2 separate regions of the Homo sapiens genome follow, and region 2 is linked to region 1. The links come from fine-mapping of genetic effects on gene expression. Tissue or cell type: whole blood. Region 1 holds a variant in brackets; the other region holds the start of a gene. All regions are shown on one strand. Distances are from middle to middle.

What was found. PIP is the estimated chance that this variant, and not a neighbour inherited with it, causes the effect.
Region 2: NOP14-AS1 starts here. The variant in region 1 is fine-mapped to the expression of NOP14-AS1 in whole blood (INTERVAL, PIP above 0.99).

What each region holds. Positions count from the first base shown.
Region 1 is chr4:2,903,598-2,909,587 of GRCh38, reverse strand. It overlaps ADD1 (adducin 1), which reads right to left. Exons shown (of 16, transcript NM_001354761.2): 10 at 4,480-4,824; 11 at 1,744-1,845; 12 at 984-1,073; 13 at 157-249. Among named protein-coding and RNA genes, the nearest start is that of SLC75A1, 28 kb to the left of the region's middle. The variant G/TG (reference allele first, on the strand shown) is at 3,195.
Region 2 is chr4:2,932,544-2,938,038 of GRCh38, reverse strand. It overlaps NOP14-AS1 (NOP14 antisense RNA 1), which reads right to left and starts at 2,493. Exons shown (of 4, transcript NR_015453.2): 1 at 1-2,493. SLC75A1 (solute carrier family 75 member 1) reads left to right here and starts at 3,214. Exons shown (of 13, transcript NM_001146069.2): 1 at 3,214-3,270; 2 at 4,095-4,286; 3 at 4,376-4,472; 4 at 4,830-4,933; 5 at 5,281-5,439. The coding sequence starts at 4,116. It overlaps NOP14 (NOP14 nucleolar protein), which reads left to right. Exons shown (of 18, transcript NM_001291978.2): 18 at 1-103. RefSeq lists enhancers at 245-664, 1,135-1,374, 1,177-2,376, 3,634-4,501, 4,594-4,723 and 1 more and silencers at 2,765-2,874, 3,035-3,344, 3,574-3,793.

The DNA.
Region 1 (5,990 bases):
TAGAACAGAACCTTCTGTACAATCTCACAAACAGGTTAAAGATCCATTTGAAGCTACTTCAGTAACTAAGACAATGCCTGAAGAGAGGAGACGGGGAGGGGGGAGGGGAGGGGAGCAAGGCGCATAGACAGGTAGTGAGGACAGGGCAGTGAGTACCTTTCTAAAAGAGAGAGATTTAGCGGGACTAAAGGTCTGCTCTGTAAGCTCGAGCCCTTCGATAGTTTCCGTACAGTCAGAGAGAGGTGCATCCTGAAACAGTAAACTGAGTCACCAGAGCACACCAGGCCCAGCCTGTGAAATATCAGCTGAGAGCACAGGATGGAGCTGGCTAAGAGCATGCAGCAGGGACAGCTGTCAACAGTAAGTGTGGCAGTGATGATGGCAGGACGTGCAGACACTGAACACGAAACCAGGACCACGGCTGGACAAATCCAACAATCGTCTACCCCTGCAGAGTCAGGTGTTAAAGCATTAGGTGGCATATTAGTTTTCAGAGATAACTACTTACACAATTATCTTCAATGTGCCACAAGGTAGAGTCATTTTGTAGAAATGTGTGTAAATGTGCACCACACTTACAGGCACCCACCCCTCTGCAACCCAAGCAGCACTTTGTTGCAGACAGCAATATGTACCAGAACAAGAGTCCCTAAACCCACCCTCTCCTAGCGCCTTACACAGAACGCTGCTGAACCCGGGCCGAATCTGAGCCCCAAAGCTGGTGGTGTATGTGCCACCCTCACATATGCATGCATTACAAGGGGCATGACCAGAGGGGTGGACACAGCCCTCAGCATGCTCGCTCCTTCTAGAACTCAACGAAAAGTGCCTGAACCGTTTCTCATCATGAAGGTTTTAACAAAGGTAACTGGTTGCCTAGAATACTTACCTCATAAAGTCACTCTCTCAATTTCAGAATAACTTTGGAGCAGGCGGTCACACAGCCACCACCCACTAAAGTCAGAGACACTCTGGGCTCTCACCTGGACGAGGCTCCTGTCCATCACTACACCACACAAAACCTGGGACTGAGGGCCAGCCGTCTTAATGTCCTGTAAATTCTGCTCTCGGATCTGAGGGTGGGAAGGAGAGGCACACATCAACAGTCCTGAGCAGCCATGCTGCCTGGGAGCCCTGCTGCTTGTGCACTTGGGCCCCAGCCACATGGAAGCTACATTTCAGCTCTCCCACTGCCCCACGCAGGCAGGATGGCCCCATGTGTTCTGAGTGACCGCCATGCCTGCTTAGTGGGGCGTGGGTCTGCAGGGATGGAGACTATTCCCAGCTCCCCACATCTTCCAGATGCTTGGGCAGGACACCTATCTCTCACTGTCATTAACTTGGGGGAAACACTCGCTGCATGTCCATCGTCTAGTGATGTGAGCACTGGCAGGGCTCCTGCTCTGATACACCAAATGCCACTCACAAGTCTTTGAACGAACCCTGAAAGGGACAGCAGTCTGCTCTTGCTAAGAACAGGTTTTGCAGCTTCCAATTCTGACCGGTGAGCAAACATCGTGAGCAAACATCAGTTCAAGAATCAATAGGGCCCAAAAAATGTCTGCTGCTCATACTTCACACTGGTGGTAGAACAGCAGCGGTGTGAAGAGATGGCTTCACTGCAACAGTGGCAACAACAGCAGATGCCCTCTGCTAGAAGCAAGCACCCGCTCCCCCCAAAGCAGCTGGCATCCCTTCCAATCCCACACCCAAGCCCCCGCTGAGTGCCGACGCAGGACGCACCTTGTTCCTCATCTCCTGGACCTCTTTTGGGTTAGTGTTCAATGGAACAAACAGGTTAGGGACAGCAGAGGTGGAAGTTCTATGTCCATCCTCTTTAGTCCACTGTAATATCAAGAACAGTTGAAAAGTCAGAATTATGACAACAATAAGTGACATAGCATCCAATCTATTCAGTTTATCTCACATCTGGTCATGCACTGAACATCACAGAGAGGACTGAACCAATGACCACATCTAATCTGGGTCACTCAGCAGAGTCGCCATGGGAGCAGGATGCAGCCACATAAAGACCAGTTAATGCTGGAAGTCAAAGTCATGACTGATGGAAAACCACCATCTGGAAAGCCCAGCTGAATCTGGGTCATAAGGTAGGCTGACGACAGAGCTGAGCCCCATAACCCTGGGACCAGCAGGGGAGGCCCCTCAGAGACCATTGGTTCACTGCTCTGAAAATCATCCAACACCAAAGCCAACTGGAAGCATGAGATGACAGGGTCATGAAAAGCAATGTGATGCTGCTACCCAGGGTTAGGGAGGAGCCTGCACCGTGAGGCAAGAGTGGGCATCACCAAAGTTTTGCATTAAAGTAAATGACAGCATCAGAATGCACTGTCTGCGTAACTTTCAACCCAAGAACATTACTGTATGGACACTTACACGGTAGCTACCTGGAAGAAGAGTTTGGTGATGTCGAATATTTTATATAACTTAATATTTTTGAGTGCTACAAAAATATCCCAAACAAACTTGAAGCGCTTCATGAGTCCTTAATATTTAAAGGCTGTTTTAGTATCAGTGCATCTCGTCAGCATGCTGAGCCTTCCACCCATAATTTTTTTTTGGATCTCCAATCAAATCTGAGATTTTTAATCAAATTCTAAGGCATGAGTAGGCACTGAACATTAAAACAAGCCCATCTTCGAGAGCAAATGTTATGCCTTTCAGAATACTTTCGAGAGGCAATAAGATAGCCATAAACCATACGACTTTAAAAAAAGCAACAAAACCAGCAAATGCTGAGCCACTGCGAGGAGAGTGTGGAATGGGCATGGAGCTCTGGGTACTCACTGATGGTTATCTTCTCAGATAAAAACAACTCCAGCGTTTTATTAAAAATAATTTTTAGTCAAAGCATTTCAAACAGCAACCTCAGAAACTTGAACACATTTGAAAAAGTAACAGCAATCATTATAAATGAAAAGATACCAACCTGGGAGCACTGCATGGACTCTGTCACTCCAGAACAGTAAGAAACAAATATAAATGCGGAGCAAGGCCTCCCCTTGGATGTACACATTGACTACTAGGCCTAAAGTGACTTAGTTGTTTTGCAAGCTAATGGTAAATAAAGCTCGCGCTGCTGCCTAAACGCTTTGGAAAACTTCCTCATGGCAATTCAGCACTGTGCTTCACATCAGCCGCAGAAAGGTGTTTTGGGGTTTTTTTTTTTT[G/TG]TTTTATAACGCCCACTTCCTTTAACAAGTGAAACAAGTAAAAAATAAACAAATGAAAGAAAAGGGGAGACAGGAAGAAGGGGGGAAAGAAGACAAGGAGGGCAGGAAAGAAGAGGAGAGACGCACTCCCATGCTCAGAGCCCCATGGCCACACAGGGTCCCTGCCCAGGTGACGCGGCCGCTCAGGAGCACGGAGGCTTCTCACCAACTGCGTCAGGAAAACACCAGGACCACCTGGGGAAGATAAAACTTTTTTTCTTTAAATAAATCTATAAAGTAAAACACTGTTACAAGGGGAAAAGAAAGCCCCACTTTATGTATTTGGTTGCCCATGGTTTTAGGAGCATCTAATCTAATTTCAACTGAACTCCTAATGAACTAGTCATGCACAGATGAGTCTGCTTCAGCCCCTGTCTCCTCCATTCCAGGGGCTTCTGGAAATGGGCCTCTTCTACATACAGTTTAAAGCAGAGCTGGGTGGACTGTTAGAGGTAGGTTACAGGAGGAATAAAGACCCATCTTCAGAGGAGGTCTCAGCACCACGACATGGGAGCACCTCTCAGGACAAACGATAACTTGAGCGGCATTAACGCTGAAACGAAGCACCCCTTGCAGCGTCTGTCGCTGGTGCCTGCAGATGGCCTGCGCTGCACTTGGGTCATGCCGCACCCAACAGGAGTCAGAAGGTGACTCGCCACTATGGCCGTCTACTCACATGCAACAGTCCATGCAGAGGGCAGCTGGGGGTGTGCATTCGGAGGCTTTGGGATAGAAAGCAGGGGAATAACACTAAGGGCAGGGGACAAGAGTCAGCAGAGAACACGCCAGGGAGCCACAAGGGAAAACTGCTTAAGAAAACACTGAAGACTTAAGAAACTTTAGTGACTTGAAACCACTGGAGTTCACAACACTAAAATACAGGTTTAGGACTGAAGTGTCTTTTTGTGCATGAAGTATTAAGAGTCCCTGAATATAATTTGAATTAAATAAGAAGAGCTCCTATTTGTAGGTTAATACATGTAAATTATTGTATATTTTTGCTATATACGGAGATATACTGGAACTACTGCGGAGTTACATTACATCTTAAGCAGTTTCAAGCAGATAGTATTATCCGAATTTTAGTAATGCATTCAGTGGACTTAGGTTCAGACTACAAGAAAGTGAATAAGGAAGGTTCGCTTTACACCTGGGTCAGAAAGGCTGGATTCCCAAAGCCTCCGAAGCCCCAGCTACCCAACTTGCTCTACGTCATCTAACTATGAACAGTAAGGTAGGCACAGACCAAGCAGTTGGTAATACAGCTTGGCACGCAGACACCGGACGAGAGAGACTGCAGCAAGGGTTTCACGTGATCGTGTGTAATGTTCGTCCACACCTTAGTCTTCGACTTGGGACTGCTTCCATTCTGCCCTTCCTCGGAAGCTTCGTCGCCCCGGCCAGAGTTCAGCCATCTTGTCTTCTCCCGCTGCTGCTTCTGAAAACTGTGTCTGAGTGGGGAGCAAGTGCCCGAATCACCGTCACTAGCAAAGGAGTAACCTGTGACACTAGCAGGAACCTCCACATCGCTGTATTTTTTAGACTTCTCTCTCAGAGCAGGGTATCGATAAGGGTAGCCAGTTCTGTAGCCCTAGGGTCCAAGGAGAGTGAAAGACAGTCAATATTCCAGATCTCAAAACAGGGTTTCACTTTGGAAAATCATGTGGAAACATCCACAAAAGTTGAACACATGCATACCCTATGACTCAGTAATTCCACTCCTAATTTTACACCCCACAGAAGCAAATGTGTTCACCAAAAACCAGGTACTAAAATGTGGACAGCAACCCTACTCCTCGTAAACCACAATTGGAAACAACCCAAAAGTCCATCCATATAGGAGATGGATAGTCTAGTGTCTTCATAAGAAGGCTTATAGTGACACAATGTGCTCTAAACCAACCACGTGGATGACTCTCCTGAAGGCAACGCTGAGTGAAAGAGACCAACCTGCAAAGAACATACACCATGTAATACCATTCATTAAAAGTGCAGAAGATGCAAAACAACCTTTGTTTTGGTTGTCCTGGGAGACAGGACAGTTGTCACCCCTGGGATGGGACAAGTGAACTGAAGGAGGTGCTGGGGGTGTTCTGAGGTGCTGCTACCGTTGCTCTTATTGACTGCTGGTTATACAGGGGGTTCAGTTTTTAAAAATGAACAAACTGAACACTTGCGGTAGGTGCACTCTCCTGCTTACATATTTCAACAAAAAATTAAAGTTGAACACCCAAACAGGGTTTACTTGCTGCCAGCCACTGTGCAGGTTATATTCATCAACATACTTAATAGACTTTTACCTCTTAAGTTACAGTTTAAATACTGTGATAATCTTTAGGTAAGTAAGGTAAGTAAGTATACCTCATGACAACTGGTTCTCAGCAAAATTACTTTACGTCTGAATACAACAACATTCAAATTCACCTCCAGCTCTGCCTCATGACCATGTGCTCTGTGGTAAAAGACAGCCCCACTTACTTCATGCCTCTACTGGACCAACTCATCTGCAGAGTCCTCCCACAGACAGCATCTCTAAGGGCATGGACGGTGTCCTCTGCATCTCTCCTGGCCACACTTGGTAAGTGTGACAGACAGACTTCACAGTGGCCCCAGGCCCCCAGCTCCTGTAATCCCCTCCCACCTTGAGCACAGGTGAGATCTCTGACTTGCTTCTAAGTAGCGGAATTCACAAAAGGTGATGATGGGCTGTATCACAGAAGAGTTTAGCACCTATCTTATAAGAGTCTCTGTCTCTAC
Region 2 (5,495 bases), 29 kb before region 1:
CTGGGGATTCTGGCCAGTGTAATTTCTGTCAACCACGGACGTTTGCCTTCATGTGTAGAATTTACTGTTGTTATGCAAATTATATTTTCAATTATAAATGAAACAAGTTTGCAGATATTTTAGAAATCAGAGAAGGGAAACATCACCCACAGTCCCTCTGCTGGAACAGCCACAGTTGGCCTTGTCCTACTTACGTCCTTCAGTGGATGCTTCTGGGTGCTGGGGTTCTCCATTCAGGACACTGCACTCTCGGAGGTGGGAGGAGACTGGGTTGCGTCTGTGCCGACCTGGGATGCAGTTTCAGGTCAGAATCAGAAGATGTGCAAGTTACGCATGACACAGCTTTTTAAAGTGCTTTTCCCCTGCACTAATCAAGAGGGAGGTCAGCCCTCAGGTGTGCTGGACCCGGGAGGGACTGTGAGCTGTAAGAAGTAACGAGCCCCTTGAACTTCACAAGCTGGCCAGGGAGCCATATCCCGAATGCCACTGCCACTTCCTCGTGGTGCAAGGCTTGTTGGGACCTGCCACCTTGCTGAGGGAGGTGCTGAAGTAGGTGGTTTCCCTGTTCCAATGCGGTATGCGGTCTTGCAGGCCGAGGCATTCCCCAGGGGATGACGGAGCCCCCGCTGGGCTACAAGCCAGGGCAAACACTGAACTTGTGTCCTTAGCCGGCATCCCAGGAAAGAAGGCCGGGGTCAAGTTCACACCTCATGAGATCACAGTGACCAGCCCTGCCCAGGCTGCCCTGGTACGTGCCTGAAGCATCGCGGAGGTCACATCTAGCCACGGTGACCGTGGTGAGATGTAAGGATTAACCAGACTACGACTGGGGAGGTGAGGAAGGTGACAAGGACCCAGTTCCAGCTTCTAACGGGGTGTGGGATCTTTGAGCAAGGAAGAAGATGCTAGGGAGAATGAGTCTGGCTTTGTTCTTGTTGGGAGGTGTTCAAGCCATGGCTGGACCAGAGCATGAGCCATCCTCAGTGTGAGAGGCAGTTACTGCCGCGGTTGGGCTGCCTGGTAGGCCTGGAGCTCAAAATGAGTCAGTCTCTCTCTGGAAAGCGCAAGACAGAGACAGCGCTGGTGGCAGCTGGGCTGAAGCCAGCAGCTTGGAGATGAGGCTCAGGCCCTGACGGGGGAAATCTTACCCAGCCTCCCCAGATGGCTCAGAGACAGGTCTGGCAGGTGCACGGATCCACAAATCTAGAAGAGTCTGGGGTTGTCACATCCACCAACTAGGCTGGCTGTCTATATACACTTTGTCACTGTGTAGGCCCAGGATTTCACCCATCTACAAATTTTCTCTGCCACACGGCTACTGCCACTTTAATTCACCAAGCCAAGCCTTTGCACTCAGGACCCTGGCCCAACCCTCTTTGGCCAAGCAAAGAGGAAACGAGAACAGGACAGAAAAAAAAGTGGGACCGGACCAGGCACCTGGCTGTCCATTGAGGCCTTGCTATGCGATCCAGGACGGAAGGTGCCGGCAGCAAGCTCATACACTCTAGCTGCGTGTCATGTCATTGAAGAGGGCGCGTGATCCAGCTGGAAGGGTGGATAAAAGTGTAACTGCCCAGTGGGTTCACCTTCCCTGTTACCTAGACAGCCAATTTATCAAGAAAGGGCATTTGCAACAGAGAAAAGGTAATTCACGCAGAGCTAGCTGTGTGGGAGACTGGAGTTTTATTATTACTCGGTCTCCCTGAGCATCTGGGGTTTGGAGTTTTTAAAGATAAGCTGGTGGGTGGGGGGCAGCCAGTGAGTCAGAAGTACCCATTGGTCAGGTCAGAGATGAAATCACAGGGAGTCGAAGCTGTTTTCGCACTGAGTCAGTTCCTGGGTGCCACAACATCAGATGAGCCTGGGTGGTGCCAGGTGACCCACCAAGTGCTGATCTTAGGCTTTACGATGGTGATGTTATCGCCAGGAGCAGTTTGGGGAGGGTCAGAATCCTGTAGCCTCCCGCTGCGTGACTCTTCAACCGTAGTTTCTAATCTTGTGGCTAATCTGTTGGTCCCACAAAAGCAGGCTAATCCCCAGGAAAGGTTTCCTTTGGGAAAGGGCTGTTATCATCTTTGTTTTAAACTAAGTTCCTCCCACAGTTCAACCTGCGTGCAGCAGTAAACAAGGAGGGCATGGAGGTTAGAAGCAAAATGGAGCTGGTTATCTCACTGTCGGCAAATTTTGCAATGGCAGTTTCATAGAGATGCCTGTCCTCTGGGAAAAAAGCTAATAACAGGTTGTCTTTTTGGCTGCAGGTGGAAAACTGCATCTATTAGGAAGAGGTGGGGCTTTGTTCTTACCCACAATTGGAAGTTCTCTATGGAGTAAAGGCGGTATGTGTGCCACCTGATTCCTTTCCCCATGTGTATCTGGTTAGGGTCGGCCACGTGAGATCCGCAAGCATTTTAGAAGGTGGGAGGGGAGGTGGGAGCTGGCTACAGGCCAGGCGTTGGCGTGGTTCCGTGAGTGTGCTCCAGCCAGGCCCAAAGCTTCTCCTGCCCAGAGGGACCGTTTCCTCCAGCGTGGGTCGGGTGCTTCTGCGCCCGGAAAGAGCGCCAGCTCCTCCTTCGGGTGACCCAGGGAGCGGGGCTGCAGGCAAAGGCGCAGGCGGCCAAAAAGGTGCCAACCGGGTCCTGTGGCTTTCAGTTGTCTCTGCCCACCCAATTCACACCATCTTTCCCCCTCAGCCGCCTGTCCTGGGACTTCAGGCTCAGCACCAAACGCAGCAAAAGTAGGTGCACAGAGAGCGGGGTCAGCTCACGCAGCCCGAGCAGAATGGCTGTGCTGCCGCCCCAGGCCCGCGGCCACCGCTGTGTGTGTGGCAGGAGTCAGCCCCCCAGCGTGGGGCCCCGAAGCCCGCGGTCCTTCCACGGGGAGGGCCAGGCCCGCAGGGCGCAGACGATGGGGGACAGGCTGCGCCAGCGCTCGCCTGAGGCCCCGCACACAAACCTCAGGCCCATGGGTCCGCTCCGCGGGGCAGGCGTCGTGGGCCCAAGGAGGCCAGGCCAGGAGTCTCGGCCTCGGGGTTACGCGGCGGCGGGCAGCTCTTCCGCTCCGCTCAGGGTGCTGCTAACCCACAGCCAAGCAGCGACCCGCAGGACCGGCGAGAACCCCGCCACTGACTCCGGCCGGAAGAGAACGTGCAGAGATGTACGTCACTTCCGGGGCGTGGCGTGGCCGGGCGTGGCCGTCCCGCCCCTGGCGGCGTGCCTGGTGCCCTGTTCCGCGTCTGTGCGACCGTCCGTCCCGAGCGCGCAGCCGCGGCAGGTGCGGGGCGGGACCGGGGGCGCCCGGGGTGGGGGGCGTAGGGGGCGCTCGGGTTGGGGGTGGGACAGGGGACGCGCGGGGTGGGGGAGGAGACGGGACCCGGGGTACGCGGGGGTGGGGCGGGTGAGAGGTGCGCAGGGTAGGGGAGTAGGGGGCGCGCGGGGTGTGGGGCTGGACCAGGGGCGCGCGGGGTGGGGGCGGTGGGAGGCGCGCGGCGTGGGGGTTAGAGGGCGCGCAGGGTGGGGGACGGGACCGGGGACGCGCAGGGTGGGGGGCGGGACCGGGGGCGCGCGGGGTGGGGGCGGGACCGGGACGCACGCGGGATGGCGGAGTGGGAGGCGCGCGGGGTTGGGGGTGCTCCTGCGTCCGGTGTGCACCCCATGGCCCCCGCCAGGGAGACCGAGTCCGGGCCAGGGGCCGGAATCGCGGGGCGCGGGCCGGGGCTGGGGTTGGGGTTGGGATCGGGATCGGGATCGGGATCGGGATCCGGGTTCCCCGCGGCTTCAAGTTTTCTCTCGCTGTTACGAGGGCGTGGGAGGCGCGGCCGTGGGGTGGGGTGGGGCCAGGTCCGCGATGTGCTCACCCTGGTCTCTCAGGACCGTTGCCTTTGCGGCTATTTTTTGTGCAATCCCCGAAGCCTGCGTTTCCTGCTGCCTGGGTTCGGGGCGGGGGCATCGCGCAGGCCAGAACGGCCCCTGCGTCCGTAGGCCAGAGCCCCTGCCATCAGCCCCTTTAGGGTGCTCGCCGGCTGTCGGGTGTGGGGGTATGCCAGGCCCCGGAGGACTCGGCTTCCCCGCTAACCCGACCCGCCGCACCCCACCCAGGCCAGGTCAGAGCAGCCCACCATGGGATGGGGAGGGGGTGGAGGCTGCACCCCGCGCCCACCCATCCACCAGCAGCCGCCGGAGCGCCGCGTGGTCACCGTTGTCTTTCTCGGCCTCCTGCTGGACCTCCTGGCCTTCACGCTGCTGCTGCCCCTGCTGCCCGGGCTGTTGGAGAGCCACGGCCGTGCCCACGTGAGTCCTTGCCCTGCGGCCCACAGTGCCCCCTGCCCCCCAGGCCCATCAGACCTCCCCAGCCCTTATCGTGATTCCTCATCCCCTAGGACCCCCTCTATGGCTCCTGGCAGGGCGGGGTGGACTGGTTTGCCACCGCCATCGGGATGCCAGTGGAGAAGAGGTACAACAGTGTCCTGTTCGGAGGTATGGCTGGCTCTGTGCCCTTGGCGGGCTCTCTACGGTCCTATGTTTGGTGGACGTGGTCCAGCCCAGGCCCCTCCCCAATTCTCGGTCCTTGCCTTCCCACTCCCTGGGCTGGCATGTCTGGTGCCCTTGCCCACATGTCCTGGCTTCTGGGCATGATCCCTTGCCTCCGCGTGTCACGTTCAGATCCTTCCTCATCTCTCCATTGGGGCCCCCTCGGCTCAAGGGCCATGGCCTGTGAGTGTAGGGCCCAGCATGACTGGACCCTCAGGACGGGGCTGGACATTGGCCTTGAGGGCCCCAAGACCACAGCTCATGGTGCCAGGCAGCCCCATGATGGTGACATCTGTCTCTCAGGTCTCATTGGCTCGGCATTCTCTGTCCTGCAGTTTCTGTGTGCGCCACTCACTGGGGCCACCTCTGACTGCTTGGGGAGGCGCCCGGTGATGCTGCTGTGCCTGGTATGTTCCTGGGCCTGGGTGCCCATGGGGAAGCCTCCTCCCACCCAGCCAGTAGCCCCATGGGGTTAGGTGGGGAGAGGGAGGTGGCTGTGGGCCCCTCATGGCCACTGGTTGGCCCTCATCGCATCCTGGAGGGGGTTCTCGGGGGACCAGTGGCTCCTGTTCCAGAGCCAGGCTTTCAAGGAGCTGCTCCTGGCCCCTAGGAAGGCACTGAGAACGCAAGTGGCCCTCAGATGCTTCGAAATAGGGCAGGGTTGAGGGGTGTTGTCTGGGTTGCCAAGCCCTACTCTGAGCCACTCCTGGCCTTAAGCGACCGCCCCTGCCTCTTGGCCCCTGCCCCTGGGCAGATGGGTGTGGCCACCTCATATGCAGTCTGGGCCACCTCTCGGAGCTTTGCGGCCTTCCTGGCCTCCAGGCTGATTGGGGGCATCAGCAAAGGGAACGTCAGCCTCTCCACGGCCATCGTTGCTGACCTGGGCTCGCCTCTGGCCCGCAGTCAAGGCATGGTAAGTGCACAGGCTGGGCCTTTGGGGTCCTGGTGGTGACTTCTGGGCCTGGGTCT